Linked DNA regions of Homo sapiens. The protein of the gene in region 1 interacts with the protein of each later gene in a pairwise test. Each region holds a gene or a part of one and is shown in the gene's direction. Other genes may lie near its edges.

Region 1 (5,280 bases):
CTTAATATGTTACTTCTTACAAGAATATTTGCATATAACAAGGGAAAAAACCTTAAGTCATGCAGTAAACTTTTATCTTTTTTTTTTTTTTAACAGGAGTCTCCCTATGTTGCCCAAGCTGGTCTTGAACACCTGGGCTCAAGTACTCCTCCTGTCTTGGCCTCCCAAAGTGCTGGGATTACAGACATGAGCCACACTTCTTTTTTTTTTTTTTTTTTTTTTTTTTTCTTGAGACAGAGTCTTGCTCTGTTGCCCAGACTGGAGTACAGTTGCACAATCCCGGCTCCCTGCAACCTTTGCCTCCTGGGTTCAAGTGATCCTCAACCTCCTGAGTATCTGGAACTACAGGCATGTGCCACCACACCCTGCTAATTCTTGTATTTCTAGTAAAGATGGAATTTCACCACGCTGGCCAGGCTAGTCTTGAACTCCTGGCCTTAAGTGATCCGCCTGCCTCGGCCTCCCAAAGTGCTGGGATTTCAGTGTGAGCCACTGTGCCCGGTCTCTTTTTTTTTTTTTTTGAGACCTTGAGACCGGGCCTTGCTCTGTTACCCAAGCTGGAGTGCAGTGGCAGGATCATAGCTCACTGCAGCCTTGAACTTCTGGGCTCAAGCAATCCTCCCACATCAGCCTCCCAAGTACCTAGGACTGCAGATGCTTACCACCATGCCCAGCTAATTTTTCATGAATTTTTAATTATTGAAATTCAGACATCTAAGAAGATGCTGAGGACTGTCTCCATATTCCTGAAATTACGACTCACCTATTCACAAACCAGCCCTTCTAGTGGAATTAAAATATTATTTGATTTTGAATACCCTACTCTAAGGTAGGCACATTGCCCTGCAATTTATTATTTATGAGGTTTTTAATTATGGAATTGTTCAAATATTCACAAAAGTAGAGAGACTACAATGAACTCCAATGTAGCCATCACTCAGGCCCAACTGTTATCAGCACAGTCCAATCATGTTTTATCTTCCCTTCTCTGACCCCCAACCCATCCCCAGTCCTTATCTAAAATCAAATCTCAAACACCATATCTTTGGGAGCCTATTTATTTAGTTAGTTAGTTTTCAGACAGAGTTTCTTTCTTGTTGCCCAAGCTGGAGTACAATAGTGTAGTCTCGGCTCACAGCAATCTCCCCCTCCTTGGTTCAAGCAATTCTCCTGCCTCAGTCTCCCAAGAAGCTGGGATTATAGGCACCTGCCACCACATCCAGCTAATTCTTTTGTGTTTTTAGCAAAGACAGGGTTTCACCATGTTGGCCAGGCTGGTCTCGAACTCCTGACCTCAGGTGATCCGCCTGCCTCGGCCTCCCAAAGTGCTGGGATTACAGGCATGAGCCACCACGCCTGGCCGGCAGCCTATTTAAATGTCATCCTCAACATAGTCAATCCTTGGGCCATTTTTTCTTACAGTAAAATTTTGTCTCTTTCTTTTAATGCAGTTTCTACGTGGAATTTGGACACTTTGGCCTTCCAGGAACTGAAGTCCGAGCTAACTGAAGTTCCTGCTTCCCGAATTTTGAAGGAGAGCCCATCTGGCTATCTCAGGAGTGGAGAGGGAGACACCGGTATGAAGTTAAGTTTCTTCCCTTTTGTGCCCACGTGGTCTTTATTCATGTCTAGTGCTGTGTTCAGAGAATCAGTATAGGGTAAATGCCCACCCAAGGGGGAAATTAACTTCCCTGGGAGCAGAGGGAGGGGAGGAGAAGAGGAACAGAACTCTCTCTCTCTCTCTGTTCCCTTGTCAGAGCAGGTCTGCAGGAGTCAGCCTTTCCCTAACAAAGCCCTCTATCCTATCACCCACACTTGGGAGGCTGGGCTGGGCTGCACAGGGCAAGATGAGAGATGTGTTGATTTCATCCACTTGATTGTCATGTAGAATTAGATATACTTGAGAAGTTACATTTTTCAGTAGCGCCTTCATATCTTTATTTTAGGGACAGGTATACACCAAGCACCATCTCAGCCACAATCTGTTACTAACAGTATGTTTTCTGAACTTTGGCCACTTAGGAAAAGTACAGTTTGGCTCTCTCCAAAGTGTTCCCTGAAAGTCCAACTTTATGACTAATACTGTGATTTCCAGAAACTTTGACTATCCATGTTATTGACAATGATTACTAGCACTGAAGGGCATGCATGCAAGTAGGGGTTATGAAATATTTAAAACACGGTTCTCTAAGATATGAGCAGCAAAGTGTTTCTACCTTCTATGAGGGAACCGAAGGTGCCATTAAAAGTAGAGAAATCTGGACCAGGCATGGTGGCTCATGCCTGTAATCCCAGCACTTTGGGAGGCTGAGGCGGGCGGATCACTTGAGGTCAGGAGTTCAAGACCAGCCTGGCCAACATGGTGAAACACTGTCTCTACTAAAAATACAAAAATTAGCCAGGCATGGTGGCAGTCATCTGTAATCCCAGCTACTTGGGAGGCTGAGGCAGGAAAATTGCTTGAACCCAGGAGGCAGAGGTTGCAGTGAGCCGAGATCACACCACTGCCCTCCAGCCTGGGCGACAGAGTGAGACTCTGTCTCAAAAAAAAAAAAAATACAGACATCTGTTGTGATTCTGGTAACTCTAAATTTTCAACCGTCTCTTCACTACATTTAAAAAATTATTTTCTAAACCAAATTAGCCAGGTGTGGTAGCAGGCACCTGTAGTCCCAGCAACTCAGGAGGCTGAGATGGGAGGGGTGCTTGAGCCTGGAAGGTCGAGGCTGCAGTGCACTGTGATTGCACCACTGCACTCCAGCCTAGGTAACAGTGCAAGACCCTGTCTCAAAAAATAATTATTTTCATGTTTATTATATTAAAATGATGTATGAAATATGTGACTCATCAGGGCTTGAAAAACTTTGTTGTATGGAGATTATTCTTATGAGTTGATTTTTCTCTCTCCTACCTTATAGTAATGAAATAAACCAGGCATGAAAGTCACAATAAGTAATACAATGAACACCCATGGGTCCCTGCCCAGCTTAAGTAGAATATTACAAATGCAGTTGAAGCCCTCTGTGCAACTTTCATCCTTACAACTGATACTGAGTGAATTGTACTTTAAATATTTTATAGCTCCCACTCCCATGCATGCCCCTCAGTGATAGCAATAATTGTCAATAACATGAAACACAGATTGATCATATAGCATTTACCATATATTTACTCTATACCAAGCACTTAACATATATAATTACATTTAAAATTTACAACAGCCCTACTACCCAAAACACTATTAGTATCCCCTTTTACAAATGCGATAACTGAGGCGTAGAGAGCTAAGTAACTTACTGAAAGTCACACAGCCAGCGGGTGGTAGAGCCTAGCTTTAAACCCAGACGATTTGTCTCCAGGGCTGTCACATCTACTGGCTCTGCCAAGCTTCCGCATGATCATTGTCTGTGTTTGGAAAGATTATGGATTAAGTGGTGCTTCGTTTTCTTTTCTGAATTTACCAGGATGTGGAGAACTAGTTTGGGTAGGAGAGCCTCTCACGCTGAGAACAGCAGAAACAATTACTGGCAAGTATGGTGTGTGGATGCGAGACCCCAAGCCCACCTACCCCTACACCCAGGAGACCACGTGGAGAATCGACACAGTTGGCACGGATGTCCGCCAGGTTTTTGAGTATGACCTCATCAGCCAGTTTATGCAGGGCTACCCTTCTAAGGTTCACATACTGCCTAGGCCACTGGAAAGCACGGGTGCTGTGGTGTACTCGGGGAGCCTCTATTTCCAGGGCGCTGAGTCCAGAACTGTCATAAGATATGAGCTGAATACCGAGACAGTGAAGGCTGAGAAGGAAATCCCTGGAGCTGGCTACCACGGACAGTTCCCGTATTCTTGGGGTGGCTACACGGACATTGACTTGGCTGTGGATGAAGCAGGCCTCTGGGTCATTTACAGCACCGATGAGGCCAAAGGTGCCATTGTCCTCTCCAAACTGAACCCAGAGAATCTGGAACTCGAACAAACCTGGGAGACAAACATCCGTAAGCAGTCAGTCGCCAATGCCTTCATCATCTGTGGCACCTTGTACACCGTCAGCAGCTACACCTCAGCAGATGCTACCGTCAACTTTGCTTATGACACAGGCACAGGTATCAGCAAGACCCTGACCATCCCATTCAAGAACCGCTATAAGTACAGCAGCATGATTGACTACAACCCCCTGGAGAAGAAGCTCTTTGCCTGGGACAACTTGAACATGGTCACTTATGACATCAAGCTCTCCAAGATGTGAAAAGCCTCCAAGCTGTACAGGCAATGGCAGAAGGAGATGCTCAGGGCTCCTGGGGGGAGCAGGCTGAAGGGAGAGCCAGCCAGCCAGGGCCCAGGCAGCTTTGACTGCTTTCCAAGTTTTCATTAATCCAGAAGGATGAACATGGTCACCATCTAACTATTCAGGAATTGTAGTCTGAGGGCGTAGACAATTTCATATAATAAATATCCTTTATCTTCTGTCAGCATTTATGGGATGTTTAATGACATAGTTCAAGTTTTCTTGTGATTTGGGGCAAAAGCTGTAAGGCATAATAGTTTCTTCCTGAAAACCATTGCTCTTGCATGTTACATGGTTACCACAAGCCACAATAAAAAGCATAACTTCTAAAGGAAGCAGAATAGCTCCTCTGGCCAGCATCGAATATAAGTAAGATGCATTTACTACAGTTGGCTTCTAATGCTTCAGATAGAATACAGTTGGGTCTCACATAACCCTTTACATTGTGAAATAAAATTTTCTTACCCAACGTTCTCTTCCTTGAACTTTGTGGGAATCTTTGCTTAAGAGAAGGATATAGATTCCAACCATCAGGTAATTCCTTCAGGTTGGGAGATGTGATTGCAGGATGTTAAAGGTGGTGTGTGTGTGTGTGTGTGTGTGTGTAACTGAGAGGCTTGTGCCTGGTTTTGAGGTGCTGCCCAGGATGACGCCAAGCAAATAGCAGCATCCACACTTTCCCACCTCCATCTCCTGGTGCTCTCGGCACTACCGGAGCAATCTTTCCATCTCTCCCCTGAACCCACCCTCTATTCACCCTAACTCCACTTCAGTTTGCTTTTGATTTTTTTTTTTTTTTTTTTTTTTTTTTGAGATGGAGTCTCGCTCTGTCACCCAGGCTGGAGTGCAGTGGCACGATCTCGGCTCACTGCAAGTTCCGCCTCCCAGGTTCACACCATTCTCCTGCCTCAGCCTCCCAAGTAGCTGGGACTACAGGCGCCTGCCACCACGCCTGGCTAATTTTTTTTTTTTCCAGTGAAGATGGGGTTTCA
Region 2 (3,500 bases), on another chromosome or scaffold:
CACCTGGTGAGGCCTCAGGCTGCTTCTGCTCATGGCAGAAGGCGAAAGGAGCTGGTGGGTGTGAAGCATGTGGCCAGAGGAAGGAGAGAGTGGGGGAGGCAAAAGTTTCTTTTAAACAACCAGATCCTGTGGGAACTAACAGCAAAAACTCGCACTTGGAGCAGGGCACCAAGCCGTTCACAAAGGATTCCCCCCATGATCCAAACACCTCCATTAATTGGGGATCAGATTTGAGCATGCGTTTGGAGGGATGGACATCCCAGCCGCAGCCCCGTGTGAACACCCAGGAGAAGGGAGTGGCCGGGCTGGACGGGAGGTGTGTTTGACTTTTAAAGAAACTGCCAAACTCCCCTTCCCCGGTGCTTGTGGTGTTTGCTTTCCTGCTGGGAAGGCGTGGGCACACCAGCTGGTCCGTGTCTTTCGGCACACCACACGGTGGAGCCAGCCCACGCGGTGGAGCCAGCCGTTTGAAAGGAGGTGCTGGAGCCCAGTCCCTGGTGAGAGGCCGCCTCCTGCAGGGCGCCTCCCATTCTGCGGCCTCTGGTTTTCTTAGCAGTATCTTTTGAGCCAACATTTTTAATTTTAATGAAGTCCAATAGATTCTTTTATGCTTCATTCTTTTTTGTCTCCCATCTAAGAAATCTTTGTTTATCCCAAGGTCAAAAAATTTTCTCCTGTATTTTATTTTTGGAATTTGTATAGTTTTAAAACTTAGTATGAACTCCCACCCCCCAAATGTCTGCTGGATCTGTAATGATATTCCTGCTTTCATTCCTGATTTTGACAATTTGTGTGTTTTTTTTTTGTTTTTTTTTTTTTTTGAGACAGCGTTTCGCTCTTGCCGCCCAGGCTGGAGTGCAATGGCGCGATCTCGGCTCACCGCAACCCCTGCCTCCCGGGTTCAAGCGATTCTCATGCCTCAGCCTCCCAAGTAGCTGGGACTACAGGCATGTGCCACCATGCCTGGGTAATTTTTATATTTTTAGTAGAGATGGGGTTTTACCATGTTGGCCAGGCTGATCTCAAACTCCTGACTTCGTGATCTGCCCGCCTCAGCCTCCCAAAGTGCTGGGATTACAGGCGTGAGCCACTGTGCCTGGCCTGTCATTCTTTTTTTTTTTTTTTTTGGTTGGGGAGAGACAGCGTCTTGCTCTGCTGCCCAGGCTGGAGTGCAGTGGCACAATCTCGGCTCACTGCAACCTCCGCCTCCTGGGTTCAGGCGATTCTGCTGCCTCAGTCTCCCGTACCTGGGACTACAGGCCTGTGCCATCATGCTTGGTTAATTTTTGTATTTTTGGTAGAGAGGGGGTTTACACGATGTTGCCTAGGCTGGTCTTGAACTTCTGGGCTCAAGTGATCCTCCTGCCTTGGCCTCCCAAAGTGCTGGGATTACAGGCATGTGCCAACCACACCCGGCCTCATTCTTTTTGATAGGTGTAAAATATACTATTGCGTGGGTGTCACCCATAAATCATTTTACCAATCCCCATAGGAGGGACGTTGAGAGTTTTCAACTCCTTTTGCACCCTGGAGTCCAGAACCCACACGAGGTGGAGCTCTTCTGAGCTGTGCTGCAAGGACTGACCTTATTTTTTTATTTTTATTTTTTTGAGGCAGAGTCTCACTCTGTCACCCAAGCTGGAGTGCAGTGGTGCGATCTCGGCTCACTACTGCAGCCTCCGCCTCCCGGGTTCAAGCGATTCTCCTGCCTCAGCCTCCCAAGTAGCTGGAATTACAGACATGTGCCACCACGTCTGGCTAATTTTTGTATTTTTAGTAGAGACGGGGTTTCACCATGTTGGCCAGGCCGGTCTCAAACTCCTGACCTCAGGTGATCCACCTGCCTCAGCCTCCCCCAGTGCTGGGATTACAGGTGTGAGCAACCGCGCCCGGCCTGTTGTTCTTTCTTTGGGAGACAGTGTCTTGCTCTGCTGCCCAGGCTGGAGTGCAGTGGCATGGTCTTGGCTCGCTGCAGCCTCCACCTCCTGGGTTCAAGTGATTCTCCTGCCTCAGCTTCTCCAGTAGCTGGGATTACAGGCACCCGCCACCACACCCGGCTGATTTTTTCTATTTTAGTAGAGATGGGGTTTCACCGTGTTGCCCAGGCTGGTCTCGAACTCCTGAGTTCAGGCAATCCACCCACCTCGGCCTCCCAAAGTGTTAGGATTACAGGCGTGAGCCACTGCGCTCGGCTGACTGACCTTATTTTTGTCTTTAAATGCTTCGTACTTTGTAGGAAAAATAGCTAGAACATTAAAACTCGTTTTAATAGGTAACCTAAAAGCTTATGACAATTTGTACTTCCTCTGTTTTAAAGGTCTCCTTAGAAGTGTTAACTTTGCTTCCCTCGTAGGAGGCAGAGGGAGATTTCTTAGGATTGAGAATGTTGGTGGGAACACAGGGAATATTTTAAAACATTCTCAGATTCTTTTCGCCAGAAGGGAAGAACAGATTAGTGAGAAACCATCTTGGCATCTACCAGACCCCCGCTTGGTGCAGCTCTACCAGCTGAAGAGTCACTCACCGACACCACTGCCCATAGCGGGTGGGGAACCTCGGGGGTGAGGCGCGGTGGTCTTGAGCCTGTGCGTGGGCACCAGCAGCTTCTGTCAGAGCTCTGCCCTGAGGCCCTCCTGGTGCGGCTGCGGTAGAAGGGCCGGGGCTGTGTGGAGACCCCGCTGTTGCCGCCCTGTGTTTTCCTGCTAACTGTTGGCCCCGTGGCTGGGTTTGCATTCTCCTCCCCCCGCCCCCACCCCATCTGCCCTGGTCAGTGCTGGTCGGAAGGGAGACCATCTCCATCTCGAGAGGAGGTGACCAGCTGCCTGCCTGCAGGGGCTTGGGTGGCCTCCCCTGCTGCTGGTCCCTGTGCCCCTCCTCCCCGTGCTTGCTGTGAGGCTGCAGCTGTGGCGGTTTCTTTTCTGTGTCTCCTGCATTGCTGTTACCTCCATAATGTGAAATGTAAACCATGTGAATGAAAAGGAAGCTCCGTCCCTGTCGTCCTCTCCAGGCCGGTGCGGGAAGGCGGATGTGTGGCTCATCCCGGACGCTGGCTTCTCTTCCCTCTTCCACACGCGCACACCCGCCGGGCTCTGCTCACCTTGCCTTCTCAGCCTTGTCAGTCGGGCAGTGTCCTAAGGTTACCAGGAGGTGTTCTGAAGCATTTTTTGAGACGTGATGTCGCTGTCACCCAGGCTGGAGGGCAGTAGCACAGTCTTGGCTCACTGTAGCCTCGACCTGTGCTCAAGCGATCCTCCCACCTCAGCCCCCTGAGTAGCTGGGACCACAGGTGCCTGCCACCATGCCTGGCTAGTTTTTTGTATTTTTAGTAGACACAGGGTCTCGCCATGTTGTCCAGGCTGGTCTCAAACTCCAGGGCTCAAGTGATCCATCTGCCTTAGCCTCCCAAAGTGCTGGTATCACAGACGTGAGCCTCCGTGCCTGGTCTGCCATCCTGTGAAGTTCCCGTGATAAAGTGGTGCGTTTCTCTTGCAGGAGAAGTA
Region 3 (3,500 bases), on another chromosome or scaffold:
GCCATATTCTCACGTTGACTTTATGCAAAGGTTATTGTTTAAGAGTTCCTTAAAGGATATTTTAATAGGTATTAGCATGATAAATTTGTTTTCAATTAGAACTGTATTAGGACTTTTTAAATTGTGCAGACACCTAGCCTGTATTAGCTTTTGCAAAAGGAAAAATGTTGGCTCACATAACTAAACTATGGGCAGGGAGGGTCTGGTCTAGGAACTATTGGATCCACAGACTACAAAGCTGTGAGGACCCCTTCAGTTTCTGTCTCTCTGTTTCTACTAGTTAGCCTCATTCATTCCCACTGTAGACCATCTTTTTTTACACACAGGACACAGGATTGCCAGCATTCCAAGATTTTAATGTCCCCAGCTCTGTCACCCAAATGGCAAGATGGTCCATCCAGGTTATTCCGGTTAGAGAAATCTAGGGAATGATTTCGATTACATAACCATAGCATAGTTATAAAAACCAGGAAATTAACATTGATGCCGTATTGTTAACTAACCTGTACATATTTTTCGAACCTTACATTTTTCCCTGTAGTTCTTCTGTTCCAGGGTCCCACACTGCATTTAGTTGTGTCTTCTTAGTCTTCTCCCGTCGATGACATTTCTTCAGTCTTTCCTTGTCTTCTTACAACCTTGACACTTTTAATGAGTACTGGTCAGTTTTGTGGAATGTCTCTCAGTTTGGATCTGTGATGTTTTCTCATGATTAGGTTGAGGTTATGCCTTTTTTCTAAGAACACCATGGATGTGATCTTGTGTCCTCAGTGCATCCTATCATAGATACAGGATGTCAATAACGTCTTATTATTAGTGAGGATAATCTTGATTATTTGGTTAAGATGATTCAGCATCCCACTGAAACTAGTGCTGGGTTCCTTCACTAGTAAAGTGACTATTTTTTCCTTTGTAATCGATAACTGTCTTGGCAGGAGAAGGAGGTACTTATGCTTATATCCTGTTTGTCCTTAAACATTCATCCACTAATTTTAGCATCCACTGCTAAAGAGGCACTAATTTTTTTAAAAACTGAGATATTACATACTATAAAATCCACCCTTATAAAGTATACAAATCAGTGGTTTTTAGTATATTAACAAGAGTATACAACCATTAGCACTGTGTAATTCCAGAACATTTTCCTCACCCTGAAAAGAAACCCTGTACCTATCAGCAGCCACTCATTCTATCCACCCCGTGGCACTCACTGCTCTGCTCTGTCTCTATGGATTTTCCTATGCTGGACGTTTCACGTGTGTATGGAGACATTAGAATATATGGCCTTTTGTGTCTGGCTTCTTCCACTTAGCATAGTGGTTTCAAGGTTGACCTGGGTTGTAGCATGTATCAGTGCTTCAGTCCTTGTTAGGGGTAAATAATATTTCATTGTGTGGACACATCCTATTTTGTTTCTTTTTCAGTTGATGGACATTTGGATTGTTTCCATCTTTTAGCTATAATGTGGTTATGAACATTTGTGTACAAGTTTTTGTCGAGGCATTAACTTTTAATTAGGAAACTTTGAAACAAAAATCTCAACACTGTACCTTGTTTTTTTCAAACTAAAATTGGAGTACTTATTACTTTTAAAAATCAACGTGTTGTCACTTTTAGAAATTGCATTTGGTGGTTTCTGGTGTGTTTGTTAATTTTTATAGTTTAGAAGGTGGTGATTTCCACAAACAGGAAAGTCTGTTGTGAAAAGACCAGCCCAGGTTGAGTAGCCCACTTGGATATCTCTGATTGCTCTCTGTAGTACGTTTAGCAGGATAGAAATTCTGTATGTTTCATCAGGTTTCTTTTTTCCTCATTTTTCCACTTCTTAAGATGAAGAAAGAGTCCAAACTGGAGAGAACACCCCAAAAAAATGTCCAAGGAAAAAGAAAAATTAGTCCATCTAAAAAGGAATCAGAATCTAAAAAGAGCAGGCCGACTTCCAAAAGGGACAGTTTGGCAAAGACAATAAAAAAGGAAACAGATGTGTTTTGGAAAAGCCTGGATTTCAAGGAGCAGGTGGCTGAGGAGACAAGTGGTGACAGCAAGGCTAGGAATTTGGCTGATGACAGCAGTGAAAACAAAGTGGAAAATTTGCTCTGGGTGGATAAATATAAGCCAACCTCGCTCAAGACCATAATTGGACAGCAAGGTGACCAGAGCTGTGCCAACAAACTCCTACGCTGGCTCCGAAACTGGCAAAAGAGTTCTTCCGAAGATAAAAAACACGGTGATTTTACAACCTCACTCATTTTTGTGTGTGTGTATATCAACATGTGATTGCTCAGTGGCACATATATGAGAAAATCTAACGATTCATTCATCTGTCAGCAAGCATTTATTAAGAGCTTGATCTGAACCCAGGTGCAGTACTAGACCCTGCTGGTGGTGTTGTGAACAAAACAGTCCCTCTCAGGAGCTCACAGGCAGTGGGGGAGGCATATCTGAACCAGCCATTAAAATATATTTGCCAAGTACTGCTAGAGGGGTAAGTCCAGGGTGCTGTGAGGATGAAGATGTGTGGTCAGGGCCAGGGTGTGTGTGCTCCCATCCCAGAGGAAGGGATGGCTAAGCTAAGACTTGGAAACAAAGTAGGAGCTAGCTAGGTGAAGGGAGGGAGAGATGAGTGTTGGGTAGGAAAGAGTATGTGTCCCAAGGTCTGAAGCCATGTGACAGCAAGACCCCTGAGTGGCAAGGGCACTAGGAGGAAAGCTGTGAATAAATAACAGAGGCATGCGTGCAGGGCAGTCAGCCTAAACTCCCAGTAGCAAGCACGATTTGCTGTGGCAGGCCCGATAGGCCTGTGCTTCTGTAGTTTCTGTCCTTGTTTATGATGTATTATTTGTCGTGGAGAGTGAAAAGCTCCAATATGTATTTAATGTCCAAAGTATTTTCTTAACTGAGCTTTGAGATCACAAATGTTTTAGTAGTGTTTTCAACATAGACCAGTGATGACTAGATTGCCAATCATCATTGCCAATGATGCCTGTTTATTTATAAAAATAATATATTGTAATGATACAGGACTAAATTTAAGTTAAATCACTTTTTTCATTCTGAAACTTCATAAAATCTCCCTTAAAAGAGGAGACAGGCATTTCATGTGCCTGGAGAAGACTGTTTTTTTTTTGTTTTGTTTTGTTTTGTTTTGAGACAGAGTCTTGCTCTGTTGCCCAGGCTGGAGTGCAGTGGTGCGATCTTGGCTCACTGCAACCTCTGCTTCCTGGGTTCAGGTGATTCTTCTGTCTCAGCCTCCTGAGCAGCTGAGACTACAGGTGCACACCACCATGCCTGGCTAATTTTTTGTAGTTTTAGTAGAGATGGGATTTCACCATGCTGGCCAGGCTGGTCTTGAACTCCTGACCTTGTGCTCTACCCGCCTTGGCCTCCCCAGGTGCTGAGATTACAGGCGTGAGCCACCGCACCCAGCCAAGAAGACTGTTTTAAAGCTTCGGGTGAACTCTAGTCCCTGTCTTCATGCCCGCTGGCAGTAGGTTGAAAAC
Region 4 (3,500 bases), on another chromosome or scaffold:
AAGTATTTACTCTTAAGCACTTTCAAAATGCTATTTAAATACTCTTGCCTCAACAAGATTTTCTAGATTCAAATTAAGTATTCTGCCAAAAGCTGAATATGCCTGACAGAACTCTTAATGTATGGGAAATATTATTTTAATGAAATATTAACTAACCTACTTGTATTAAGGGAAAGATTAAATATATATCTGGATCCATATTTTTATGTGATAACTTTCTCCCCTTTTGTAAAAACCAAGATTCCCCCATTTTGTCTGATAGTTTACCAAGAAGAAGTTGACTCTACAATGTTTTCATGTTTAGGGTCACCCTGGAAAACCCGGACGACCTGGTGAGAGAGGAGTTGTTGGACCACAGGTGAGACTTTTTACATTGGTAGATAGCACAAACATCATAGGCCTATAAGATAGTTGCTAAAACTAGCATCAATCTAAATGACAACATAGATGTCACCCAAACTCATAACATGAATCGAAGGCATCTAATAAAGAAAAAAGCCTAGTTAAAAAAAAATGCATATACATTTTATTCATGCAAATAATGGAATATAAATGACAGCAAGCATACCATAAGCAACTAAATTGTGTTTTCTACAAATACCGTATTATTAGTTACTCACATTAGAGCAAGTTAATTTGTCACTCTGTGCTTAGAGGTATACTAGACTTTGGTTCAAAGCTTGAACTTTGATGAGAATAAATACTTTGGAGGGAAGAAGTCACTGTCTTTTTATTTATGGTAAAACATTATTCACCATCTTCTGTATTTCTTTCTAAGGGTGCTCGTGGTTTCCCTGGAACTCCTGGACTTCCTGGCTTCAAAGGCATTAGGGTGAGCACATTCTTTACTCAGAAGAGAGAAAATGCCTATTAATTTTTGGAAAAAACTCAAGTATGTTTAAAATCTTGGGTGACATATACTCACTTTCAAATCCCTGGAGTTTGCCAAAGGGAAGAAAGAGTTAAAGAGTCAGATTTCTTGAAAGTAAAGTGGGGTGCAATTTTTTCAGTCTGTTCATAGCTACCAAAAAACAGGCTCACTACAGAGAAAATTATATAGAACATGTATTACTTATTGAGTATTTACAACCGTCTGAAAATCATAAAATTATTAAGGATGGAAAAGATGTGAGAGAACACCTAGTCCTCCATCCTTCTCTCTCAATGGCAAGAAAGTTAAGTGACCTATCTAGGGCAATAGACTGAGTTTGCTGGGACCTGGAACACTGGACTTCTTTCTACTGCAGCAGACAAGACTTACCCAAGAGAGATTAATGGCAAAGATATACAATACAATTTTTATTTGACCAAACACTATCATGGAACAGCATTTTATAATAAGGCTTTCCTTTCAGGGACACAATGGTCTGGATGGATTGAAGGGACAGCCCGGTGCTCCTGGTGTGAAGGTAAATATTAAATTAGAAGCACTGTTTTTAAGCACTTGATTGAAATTCCCCATGACCTCCAAAAAAGTATATTATACTGAAGACTACCCATATTACAAAAAGTATTTTTATTTTTTTTCTTTCCTGTACTTCAAATCCCTCAAGGATGGGGACTATGAGAGTCTGTGAAAAAAGGTCAATTATTAATATTTATTAAAATTCAATATCTATTAAACAATTGAGATAAAAATAATATTAATAGTTTCTTGTTCCATTTCCTTTCCTCCCTCTATAATTCCAGTGTATCTCTGCAGCCAAAATAAAAGTAAATAAACATATAATCAGAGATTACGACACTCTGTATTATTTTAAACTGTAAATTCTCCTTTGCCACACACTAATTAGATAGGTACATTCATGTCGCTATACACTTTTCAACCTCTTTCCTGTGATTTATCTGTGCACACTCAAAAAAATTTTAATTAGGTAATTAAAGTCTCAGAAGTGTGTTATCTCTTGGCTAGGCTCTTCTCTGACAGCGTTTTCAACTATAAAATGTTCTCTTTCCTATTAAGGAGATAATGTGATATTAAAGTGAATACCAACGTAATTACAAATTAATGAGTAACGAATACTAGCGGGACCAGAAATGAACATGAATATGGAGAATCTATTCTAACTTTCCAGCTGCCACACAAATGGATAAGGTCAAACTCATTCTCCCAAGAGCCCGATATAACAGCTCAGACTACTAATCACTGTATCATAAAATGTTAGAGCTGCAAGGAGCTTTGGAGACCCCCTCATTTTGCAGAGGTGGGAAACTGAGGCTTCGTGAGAGCAATTGACTTGCCCAAAGTCACACATCTAGAGGTTAGAAAGTCATAGGCTAGAAATGATCCCCCCTTGCCACTTCAATGCTTATTCCCAAAGAATAGACTTCACATAGAATCCTGGAAATTAAGGGTCCTTATGAGGTCTCTTAAACCATATTTCCCCTATATCTAAATCAGATTATCTTTAAAAAAAGTTCTTTTACATGTGCCATAGTATTAAATCCCACTACTACTACTACTACTACCCTGGTTTTTACTCAGGATAAGAATATAGATTGGAAATAAATATGATGGCTCTAAAAAATACCATGAAGCTTCAATTTTTCATGCACATTTTATGAAAGTGATAACACTGAGTGTTCAAAATAACTTTAAAAAGGATAAATATGGTTACATTGAAAGCAAATTTATCCTTTGCCATCTCTTTTTATGATATTGTTTCTAGTATATAATTGATATCCTGAATCTAAGGGAGAAATTGGGGAGGAGGTACACTCAAATAACCACATCTCCTTAGAACCTGGATATGTGGTACTATCTGAATAAAAACTCATGTTAGCACATTTTAAAATCTGTGTGTCTGGCATAATTGAAAAACAATCTATATGTGTAAGAAATATTATGAAGTATATGAATGGTTCAAAGTAAAAAAAATAGAGTAAAATTGCACTATCAGGAAAAATAATTGTTATATTTAATGAACAAAAACTCAATCCTTCTCCATGTAGGGTGAACCTGGTGCCCCTGGTGAAAATGGAACTCCAGGTCAAACAGTAAGTATTGACTACTTCATTGTAAATTTAAATGTGTACACTCTTTATGAGATGGAACTTCTTTAATGTTTTTGCTAATCACTGTATCCTTCAGCATTGTATTCTTTGATGTTTTTCTAATAGCCTTCTGATACTTAATTGAAATCCACTACTGTTTAGTTGGAATTAGAAGGCAACTTATTTATTTTTAGTGTATTCTTGTACAGGTTGGAAACTGAACAAAGCAAATGATGCCTGTGACTTTTTTTAAATTAGCATTCTGGATTTTATTGAAAATATTTCTGCTTCTAGGGAGCCCGTGGGCTTCCTGGTGAGAGAGGACGTGTTGGTGCCCCTGGCCCAGCTGTAAGTGCTTCCATTTTTGTTCAGTTTCATCCTTTTAAAAAATCTTCTAATGGCTGTCATTTAAGTTTCCACCTGATCTTCCCTTTATTTTCTTCTTAGGGTGCCCGTGGCAGTGATGGAAGTGTGGGTCCCGTGGGTCCTGCTGTAAGTTTTGACAC

Evidence for each region. Proteins that work in one complex are often made in the same cells at the same time.
Region 2: the proteins of MYOC (region 1) and HAGH interact in a two-hybrid assay, tested with the Homo sapiens proteins (one study listed by BioGRID).
Region 3: the proteins of MYOC (region 1) and RFC1 interact in a two-hybrid assay, tested with the Homo sapiens proteins (one study listed by BioGRID).
Region 4: the proteins of MYOC (region 1) and COL1A2 interact in a two-hybrid assay, tested with the Homo sapiens proteins (one study listed by BioGRID).

The regions. Positions count from the first base shown.
Region 1 is NC_000001.11:171,634,894-171,640,173, reverse strand, and holds the end of MYOC (myocilin precursor), read left to right. Parts: intron 1-1,451; coding exon 1,452-1,577; intron 1,578-3,464; coding exon 3,465-4,249; 3' UTR 4,250-4,757; downstream 4,758-5,280. UniProt on the Homo sapiens protein: Secreted glycoprotein regulating the activation of different signaling pathways in adjacent cells to control different processes including cell adhesion, cell-matrix adhesion, cytoskeleton organization and cell migration.
Region 2 is NC_000016.10:1,809,826-1,813,325, reverse strand, and holds part of HAGH (hydroxyacylglutathione hydrolase, mitochondrial isoform 1 precursor), read left to right. Parts: intron 1-3,492; coding exon 3,493-3,500. UniProt on the Homo sapiens protein: Thiolesterase that catalyzes the hydrolysis of S-D-lactoyl-glutathione to form glutathione and D-lactic acid.
Region 3 is NC_000004.12:39,307,363-39,310,862, reverse strand, and holds part of RFC1 (replication factor C subunit 1), read left to right. Parts: intron 1-1,830; coding exon 1,831-2,227; intron 2,228-3,500. UniProt on the Homo sapiens protein: Subunit of the replication factor C (RFC) complex which acts during elongation of primed DNA templates by DNA polymerases delta and epsilon, and is necessary for ATP-dependent loading of proliferating cell nuclear antigen (PCNA) onto primed DNA.
Region 4 is NC_000007.14:94,404,895-94,408,394, forward strand, and holds part of COL1A2 (collagen alpha-2(I) chain precursor), read left to right. Parts: intron 1-304; coding exon 305-358; intron 359-778; coding exon 779-832; intron 833-1,355; coding exon 1,356-1,409; intron 1,410-2,952; coding exon 2,953-2,997; intron 2,998-3,288; coding exon 3,289-3,342; intron 3,343-3,441; coding exon 3,442-3,486; intron 3,487-3,500. UniProt on the Homo sapiens protein: Type I collagen is a member of group I collagen (fibrillar forming collagen).